2 linked regions of the Homo sapiens genome follow. The protein of the gene in region 2 interacts with the protein of the main gene of each other region in a pairwise test. Each region holds a gene or a part of one and is shown on either strand. Other genes may lie near its edges. The genes, in order: RNF20 and DIS3L.

Region 1 (4,028 bases), on a different chromosome or scaffold from region 2:
TACTTCTTAATTACTTGTAAGATTTTTTAAAAGTCAATAGCTTTATTCATAGAAAATAACTAATGAATAATTGTGACCTTGTTGAGTTTAACGGCTCATTTTTCTTATTTCTTTGTGGAGACTAATACGATTGGTTTACTGGGCAGGAGGAACTAGACATTAGAACACTGCAAACCAAAAATCGCAAGCTGGCAGAAATGTTGGATCAGCGGCAGGCCATTGAAGATGAACTTCGTGAGCACATTGAAAAACTGGAACGACGACAGGCCACTGATGATGCCTCACTATTGATTGTCAACCGATACTGGAGTCAGGTAGCTAACTTGTTTATTTGTTCAGATTTTTATTTGACCAATTTAGTTCTCCTTACTGTTCTCTTCATTTCCAAAGTTGTGTCCTTTGTTTCTTCATAATTGTACCTACCCTTCTCCAGTTTGATGAAAACATCCGTATCATCCTTAAACGTTATGATCTGGAGCAGGGCTTGGGAGACCTACTCACAGAACGAAAAGCCCTTGTTGTGCCTGAACCAGAACCAGACTCTGATAGCAATCAGGAGCGTAAAGATGACCGAGAGAGAGGCAAGTGTTCGTGATGGATTCTATCACTGCATGCTATCTGGGTTTTTAAAGTAGAGCTCTGCTTTGAGGCTTTCCATTTGAGGGAAAAAAAATGGATTTTGTTATTTCCAGTTTATAATTTTGGGGGGCTTCTTTTTTTCCCCCTGTGTCCTCAGGGGAAGGGCAAGAGCCAGCTTTCTCTTTCCTTGCTACTTTGGCCAGCAGTTCCAGTGAAGAGATGGAGTCTCAGCTGCAGGAACGTGTGGAGTCTTCCCGCCGAGCCGTGTCCCAGATTGTGACTGTTTATGATAAATTGCAAGAAAAAGTGGAGCTCTTATCCCGGAAGCTAAACAGTGGAGGTGAGGCAAGACCCTGGAGGCCGGGAGTAGTGGAGGAGGAATAAGAATTCATTTTTGCATGCTAATTTGTAGTTTGCAAGCTTACATATTTATTTTTATTTATTTATTATTTACTTTTTAAGAGATAAGGTTTCACTGTGTCACCCAGGCTGGAACACAGTGGCACCATCATAGCCCATTGAATCCTCGAACTCAAGCAATCTTTCTGCCTCAGCTTCCGAATAGCTAGGACTATAGGCACGTACTACCACACCTGGCTAATATTTTAACCTTTTTGTAGAGAGGAAGTCTTGCTATGTTGCCCAGGCTGGTCTCAAACTTGGCCTCAAGAGATCCTCTCTTCTGGCCTCCCAAAGTGTTAGGATTACAGGCATGAGCCACTGTGCCTGGACTATATATTTTAATTAAATTTTTAGAAATTCTAACCTTCAGTGTTACTGGTAATGTCTTCATTATGGCATATTAATCTTTTATCAGTGCTTCTCATTTTGAGCCACATGACAGTCCTTTAATAAGCTGAGGAAAGAGTTTATCAGCTCTATACTGATATACTCTATTAATGACAGTTTTGTAAATAGCAGAATTAACTTTATTATTTAATAAACAGCTCTAATATCTGGATCTGTTTATCGTGTATGTAGGCTATTGATTTATAGTGATAATACTTTATTTTAAATAACAACTATATTATTTAATTATTAGTTACAGAATTTTGACTTGAAAAAGTTAATTTTTACTTAACTTATTTTTCATTATCGCTAATGTTTTTAAAAAGAGTTGGTGCAGGTTTTAGAGTTGACAGATGATCTGTATGGTTAAAAGGATTATTAGAAAATATTCTATGGATGAAAGAGTATTTGAAATAAAATAATTATTTGGGATAATTGTGTTACTCAGAGTTAATGCAAAAATTTAAATTTGTACAGTAAAGTATTTGTGTAGCTAGGTTACATCTTTAGTCATTTGTGGCATAAATACCTTGCTCAAATGCAAAAAAAATGCCTTGATTTCATGTTTTCAATAATAATCATGGTCTAGTTGTAATATCTTAATTTCCCTGCTTATCATTAAGATGTTTAACCTTTCATTTCTGAAGGAAATAAGTTGAATGTAATGGAGGTTGAACCATTGGATGAGCATATAAGAATTGTATTATTCTGTAATTTTGCTTTTAAGGGTAATTGGGCTAAGTTGTCAACAGAATTAAGCAGCTTGTAGAAGGCCTGTGAAAATTTGGTCACGGGTTTCTTTTGCTTTTCCATTAGATTATGCATTTCTGTATTTTATTATAAGGAAAACAGATACTTGTTTAAAAATATACAAGTCAGAAATACAAATAAGTAGACTACAAAAGTTTCCCCATTCTCATTTCTCAAAAGATAACCATTCTAAACAATGTGTTTTATGTCCTCTCAGACTTTTGTACTTTTGTATTAATATCTTACATCTACTTGCATGTCCCCAGCTAAACTGTGTCTTGGTTCAGTAGTTTGGCTCACTCTTCTTTGTTTCTCTAGTTTCTAGCACTGCATCTGGCATCTAGCAGATGTTTAGTCAATGGGGAATGAATGGATGTGAACCTCCCTGTCACCTAATATAAAATAATGGTGCTTTGTGTGTGCACATATGCTTCTTTCTCCTTGGGCTCTAATTGAATAGTTAGAAGGTATTGTTAAATTTTAGTAATATGGTAATTAATATGCCATGTGCATAGACTATGTTAAACTTGATTTCATAAATGAATATCAAGTGAAACAATTGTTTTATTTAAAAAGGGAATAAAATGAGTAGTATATCAAACGACTTTAAAATTACTATTTAATGGCATGCATTTTAAGGTCGGGTTTAAGTTAAAAAGTAGAAACATTACAAATAGCCATGCCATTATTTGTAACACAAAAGGCAATTGCCATTGGTAAGCTGAACTTTCTAAGAGATAAAGATGTATAAAGTATGAATTATAGCATCAGTTGTAACTTGTTTGAAAGTTCATCCCCCTGACTTAGACTGAAAATTGACATTCCTCAAATTCCTAGGACATCATCAATACAGTAGTTTCTACTTCCCCATTCCCTGTGGAATTTCTACCACGCCATTCCTCAATAACACTATACAGTCTTTTATATTTAGGGTAATTCATTATTTGGAGGTTTGGAGTTGTGTTGTGTTTTACAAAATCCCCTATGATATGATAGGCCTTCTAGAGTAAGGTAAGGCCTTCTAGAGCAAGTATAGGCCTTATAGAGTAAGGTCTATAAATTCATCTAACCCTGCCAGAGCGGCACTGTCTAACCTGCCACGGCAGTACTGTCTAACCGTGCCAGGGCGGCACTGTCTAACCCTTCCAGGGCGGCACTGTCTAACCCTTCCAGGGCGGCACTGTCTAACCCTGCCAGGGCGGCACTGTCTAACCTGCCAGAGCGGCACTGTCTAACCTGCCAGAGCGGCACTGTCTAACTCTGCCAGGGCGGCACTGTCTAACCTGCCAAGGCAGCACTGTCTAACCCTGCCAGGGTGGCACTGTCTAACCCTGCCACTGCAGTACTGTCCAACCCTGCCAGAGCGGAACTGTCTAACCTGCCAGGGCGGCACTGTCTAACCTGCCAGAGCGGCACTGTCTAACCCTGCCAGGGCGGCACTGTCTAACCTGCCAGGGCAGTACTGTCTGTTTGTTTGGTCTTTGATTCAAAAGAATTGCATTTATGGGCTTGTTTATAAATTCACTAAACATTTATTGAATTTTATTGTATTCTAGCCCTGTCCTCAGTGCTTAGGATATTGAGAGGACTAAAATTCAGTCTCTACTTCTTAACTCAGGTTATGAATCAGAATAACCTTGGGAGTTTTCTGAGCATATTCTTATTTTTGGCTTTGCCCATGGAGGTTCTTATTAAGTAGGTATGAGATAGGTCCTAGGGAAATGTCTATTTTAAAAGTTCCACAAGTGATTCTGATGGGCAAGCCTAGCTTGAAAACCATGAAAACCACCATATGACCAACCTGTTCTGTATTGATACTAAGAGTAATGCCAAGAGGTGATATGAGAAAGCATATTTTTCTTCCTGATAACTCTCTTTGATGGGTGGTATATATCCTGAGAGTATCTGGT
Region 2 (4,150 bases):
GGCAGTGGAAAACCAATAGTTTTTCATCAAGTTAACTACTCTTGAAATGTTCAGGAGAAAAAAACGTTTAAATTCCAACTCTTTGTCTTTGAATGTCCCAGGAACTGGTTTCTAAAACAATCCTTAACATTAAAAATATTTCAGAAAACAGAAGTTGAAAAGGCTCGCAGTGTGTTAGCAATCTGAATGATAACAACAAATTGATTTTAGTAGCAGAAACTGAAATATGACACCTGGAGCAGCATTTAAATTTGGATGTGTATAAACATCTATATCTTGGTGTCTGAACAAAATCAACTTGAAGATCATTTAAAAATATTCTATCTGAAAAAACCTGCACACAATCTGGTTAATGTATGTTTTTTGAACTGAGCATATAATAAGAGGACAATTTTTTGCCATTTTCATATACAAATAAAAACACTTCATCTTTTATCACTAAGGCCTGAAGAAACCACAACATTTTAAAAAAGAATAAATGCATAGTTGGTGCTTATTAAATAACTTAGAGTGTTAAAAGGTTGGACGTATAATTCTAATATGCTATTTCCATACAGTTTTAAGTTCAAGTCATAAACCTTTCCCAACATTAAAGGAAGCAAAATCGTTTTTCAAAGTATTTGTTTAAAAGGTAGACAGCTATTCTTCATTTAAGTACTAGGCAAGAATTTTAGACTTGTTCAATTAGAAAGCCTTTGTTTAGCAAATACAATGACTATGGCTGGTAGTTACACTAGTAATCTAAAAATAAAACAAGCTATTTCTGGTTTCATTGAATAAATCATTACAAGTACAATTTGCATCCCCAATAAAAGAGTCTAAAATTTAAAAATAAAGTACTCTTTTCCCCAAGAAAAGAACGTATGCTTCTGAAACAATGTATCTATAAATAAGATTAAATAATACACATTATCAACAAGAAATAAGCAATAACCCTGCCACTATAAAAATGCAAGCCAAAAGACAATTCACACTAGAATCTTAAATACCCACATACTGGGGACACTGCAGTTTACTAATCTACAGTCAGATCTCTTGGCCAGGTGTTGAAGCAGAAATATAAAATAATGTTACTGCATTCCTCACTATCAAAGAGAATACGAAATTAGTTTTAAAAGTCCCTTCTGACAAAATAATGAATTCCTCCCATCCCCCTCCGACAAGGGACCTTTTCTAAGGTGGGGGGAACCTATGCCATATAGAAATAAAGAATGCAAAACGTATACCTCCTGCCTCTTTGATGCTGCACAGCTTGACAAGCTGTCTGCATGAAAATAATTCCCTTCAACTCAGGAAACTCAAGGATCTCAAGATAATCTTGAACAACTTTCCAGTCTGGGATCACGTAATGAGTCACATCACTAGACAAGAGTTTCCCATCTGAAACATAATTCAAAATGTAAGAGATTAGACAATGTTTTCAAACCTGGTTTATTTAAATGTCACGGTGCTCTGGCATGCAAAATAACTTCCAGTCTTAACTCCATGGTGGGAGTTTTTAAAAGACAAATCTACTTTGGTAGAGGCCCAAAGTTCAGGTATATTGAGCACCCTCATTTTTTTGGAAGCTGTGATAAATACAAGCTCAACGTGGTTTATGGTGTTGCCAGAGGTGCCGGAGAGGATGGCTGATTTAACAACGAACAAGCACATTTTCAGCATAACCTGAATATTTCAGTGTTAACTCATCATTGACAAACACATTCAAATGAAGCACCCCCACATTTATACCACTTGTGTATGATGCCCAGCAATTTAAAGTTGGCTCTGTGTCAAGCTTCTGCACGTGCTCAGCAGCCTCCAAGGGCCAGAAAGATTGAACAGAGAAAATGCTCCGTGCAAGCAACGTGCAGAGGTGAGGTTTCCCACCAGACCTGCATCTGAGAGCTGGTTAGCCAAGCTCTAACTGAAATGTTCACCTTAATCACAATGTTTGGAGGATTCCACACATTCGCTGACAAGGACCCCCAGCCCATTCTCATCCTCCCATGGGGGAAGAGAGCCAGTAACGTGCATCGTTCTATCGGCCACCCTTGTGGCCTAGAAACCAAGGACTGGGGCCCAGGAGTCCCCAGTCCAACTTCCCCGTGACCTTCCGCTCCAGTGCGGGCCCAGAGAGTTCACAAATCTACGGTGAAGTGGCTCTCCACTGGGGGAAAAGTCTGGGGCAACAGTGCGGGCAGGTCAGGAAACCTGTGGCTGCAAAGCAGGCGATGTCAGCTTCGCAGCGGCAGCAGCTGGCCTGTAGCTCCCGGGGGCTCCCAGCTCGGGACCTCCCCATTTCTCCACGGCGCGAGGTTGCGGCGGGAGGAGGCCTCGGCTTCCGCGCCCTCAGGCCCCTCTGAGGAGCCAAACCACCCGGCCTCCGGCATGGGGTGCGGGTCTGTCGGGCCCTCCCATTGGACAGGGCGGAGCAGTAAGGGAGTCCCGGGCGCCCCAGAAGCCGCGGACCCGGGCCGCTGGGTCCCCACCGGCAGAGAGCCGGGGGGTGAGGCCGGCGAGCGGGCGCAGGCCGCGGGGCCTACGCCTCCGTGTCCCCGCCGCTGGCGCTCCGCCTCCCGGCCGCGCTCAGCCCCTCACTGCGGCCGCCCGCTCCCGCCGGCCCCGTCCCCGCCCCCGCCCCGGCCCTGACCGTGGCTGCAGGCGGCGGGCTGCGGGCAGAGCGGGCTGTGGCAGGGCACGCAGGGCCGCAGGTAGTGCTCGCGCACGATCCGCAGCGTGCGGCCCTGGAAGGTCCTCAGCAGCAGCACCTTCTCCCGCTTCTGCAGCATGGCGGCGTGTCTCCCGGCGGCCGCGGAGTGGCGGGCGCGGCGGAGGCAAGGCCGCGGCCTCGGACCCGCCCCTCGGCCCTAGGCGCCGCGGCTCCGGAACCGCCGTAACTGCCGCGCCCGGGGGAGGCCCGGAGCTACACGCTCCAGGCTGGGGCCCGGCCCTCCCGGCCTTAGTTTCTTCCCTTCCCTCAGTGGCCTGGACCAGGGCGGAGGGGTGGAAACGACCTACCCCAGAGACGGAGGGAAGACTAGGATGATACCTGGACGGCAGGTGAAGAAGGGCTGGGCGCAGCTGTCCAAGATTAGGAGACTTTGTTTGTCCCCCCCAGGTCCATGTGGGAATGGAGCCGCCGTATTAATACTAATACCGGGTAATTAATGTTTTCTCTTCGTTGCTCTCGCTATCTCCAAACGAGGTAAAAGACTCAGCACATAAGCCGGCAACCCTGCCAGCCGAACATTTCTAAAAAGTTATATTCATTTAAAATTACATGTACTTTTTTTAAAGTTTTTTTCTTTTTTTGTAGAGATGGGAGGGTGAGGGGGGCAGGTCTTGCTCTGTTGGCCCGGCTGGTCTCAGGCGATCCACCTGCTTCGGCCTCCCAAAGTGTTGGGATTATAGGTGTGAGCTGCTGCGCCTGGCCTTTCATGTTCTTTTTAAAATTTATTTATTTGTTTTGGTATCCCTATTGAAGTTATCATGTACTTATATAATCAAACAATGCAGATAAAATGAAAACCAATCTCTTCCCTTGAAGCACTGTTCCACTCCAACTTTTATAGCTTTTGCAGCCTCTGGCAAAGGATTTCTCCTTTAAACTGCCACTGTGACACAATCACAAACGTACATGTTTGTATTAATTTTTTTTTTTTTTTTGGACAGGGTCTTGCTGTGTCACTCATGCTGGAGTATAGTGCATGATCATGGCTCACTGCAGCCCCCGAACTTCTGGGCACAAACGATCTTCTCCACCACGCCTAGCGTTTTTTTCTTTTCTTTTCTTTTCTTTTTTTTTGTAGAGATGGGAGTGTCTCACTATGTTACCCAGGCTGGTCTCAAACTCCTGGGCTCAAGTGATTCTCCCACCTCAGCCTCCCAAAGTGCTGGGATTACAGGCGTAAGCCACCACGCCCAGCCTGTAGCTCTTGATAAAGAGATGCACACAGTCTCTTCTGAGATCACACACCCTTGATGGGATAGAATCCACTCTTCTTCCAAGCACTCAACTAAGACTTTTGAGCTGCACTAGCAGCTTTGTATACGTGTCCCATTTAATTTCCACAACAAGTCAAAGGAGTGGGGCATTATCATTCCTATCTTATAGACTATAAAACAGGGTTAGGGAAGTTAAGTGGCCAAGGTTACCCAGTTATTAAGT

Evidence for each region.
Region 1: the proteins of DIS3L (region 2) and RNF20 interact in a two-hybrid assay, tested with the Homo sapiens proteins (one large-scale study listed by BioGRID).

What each region holds. Positions count from the first base shown.
Region 1 is NC_000009.12:101,540,057-101,544,084, forward strand, and holds part of RNF20 (E3 ubiquitin-protein ligase BRE1A), read left to right. Parts: intron 1-146; coding exon 147-314; intron 315-433; coding exon 434-581; intron 582-736; coding exon 737-919; intron 920-4,028. UniProt on the Homo sapiens protein: Component of the RNF20/40 E3 ubiquitin-protein ligase complex that mediates monoubiquitination of 'Lys-120' of histone H2B (H2BK120ub1).
Region 2 is NC_000015.10:66,292,218-66,296,367, reverse strand, and holds the start of DIS3L (DIS3-like exonuclease 1), read right to left. Parts: upstream 2,801-4,150; 5' UTR 2,772-2,800; coding exon 2,633-2,771; intron 2,554-2,632; exon of another isoform or gene 2,282-2,553; coding exon of another isoform or gene 2,194-2,281; exon of another isoform or gene 1,920-2,193; intron 1,381-1,919; coding exon 1,227-1,380; intron 1-1,226. UniProt on the Homo sapiens protein: Catalytic component of the RNA exosome complex which has 3'->5' exoribonuclease activity and participates in a multitude of cellular RNA processing and degradation events.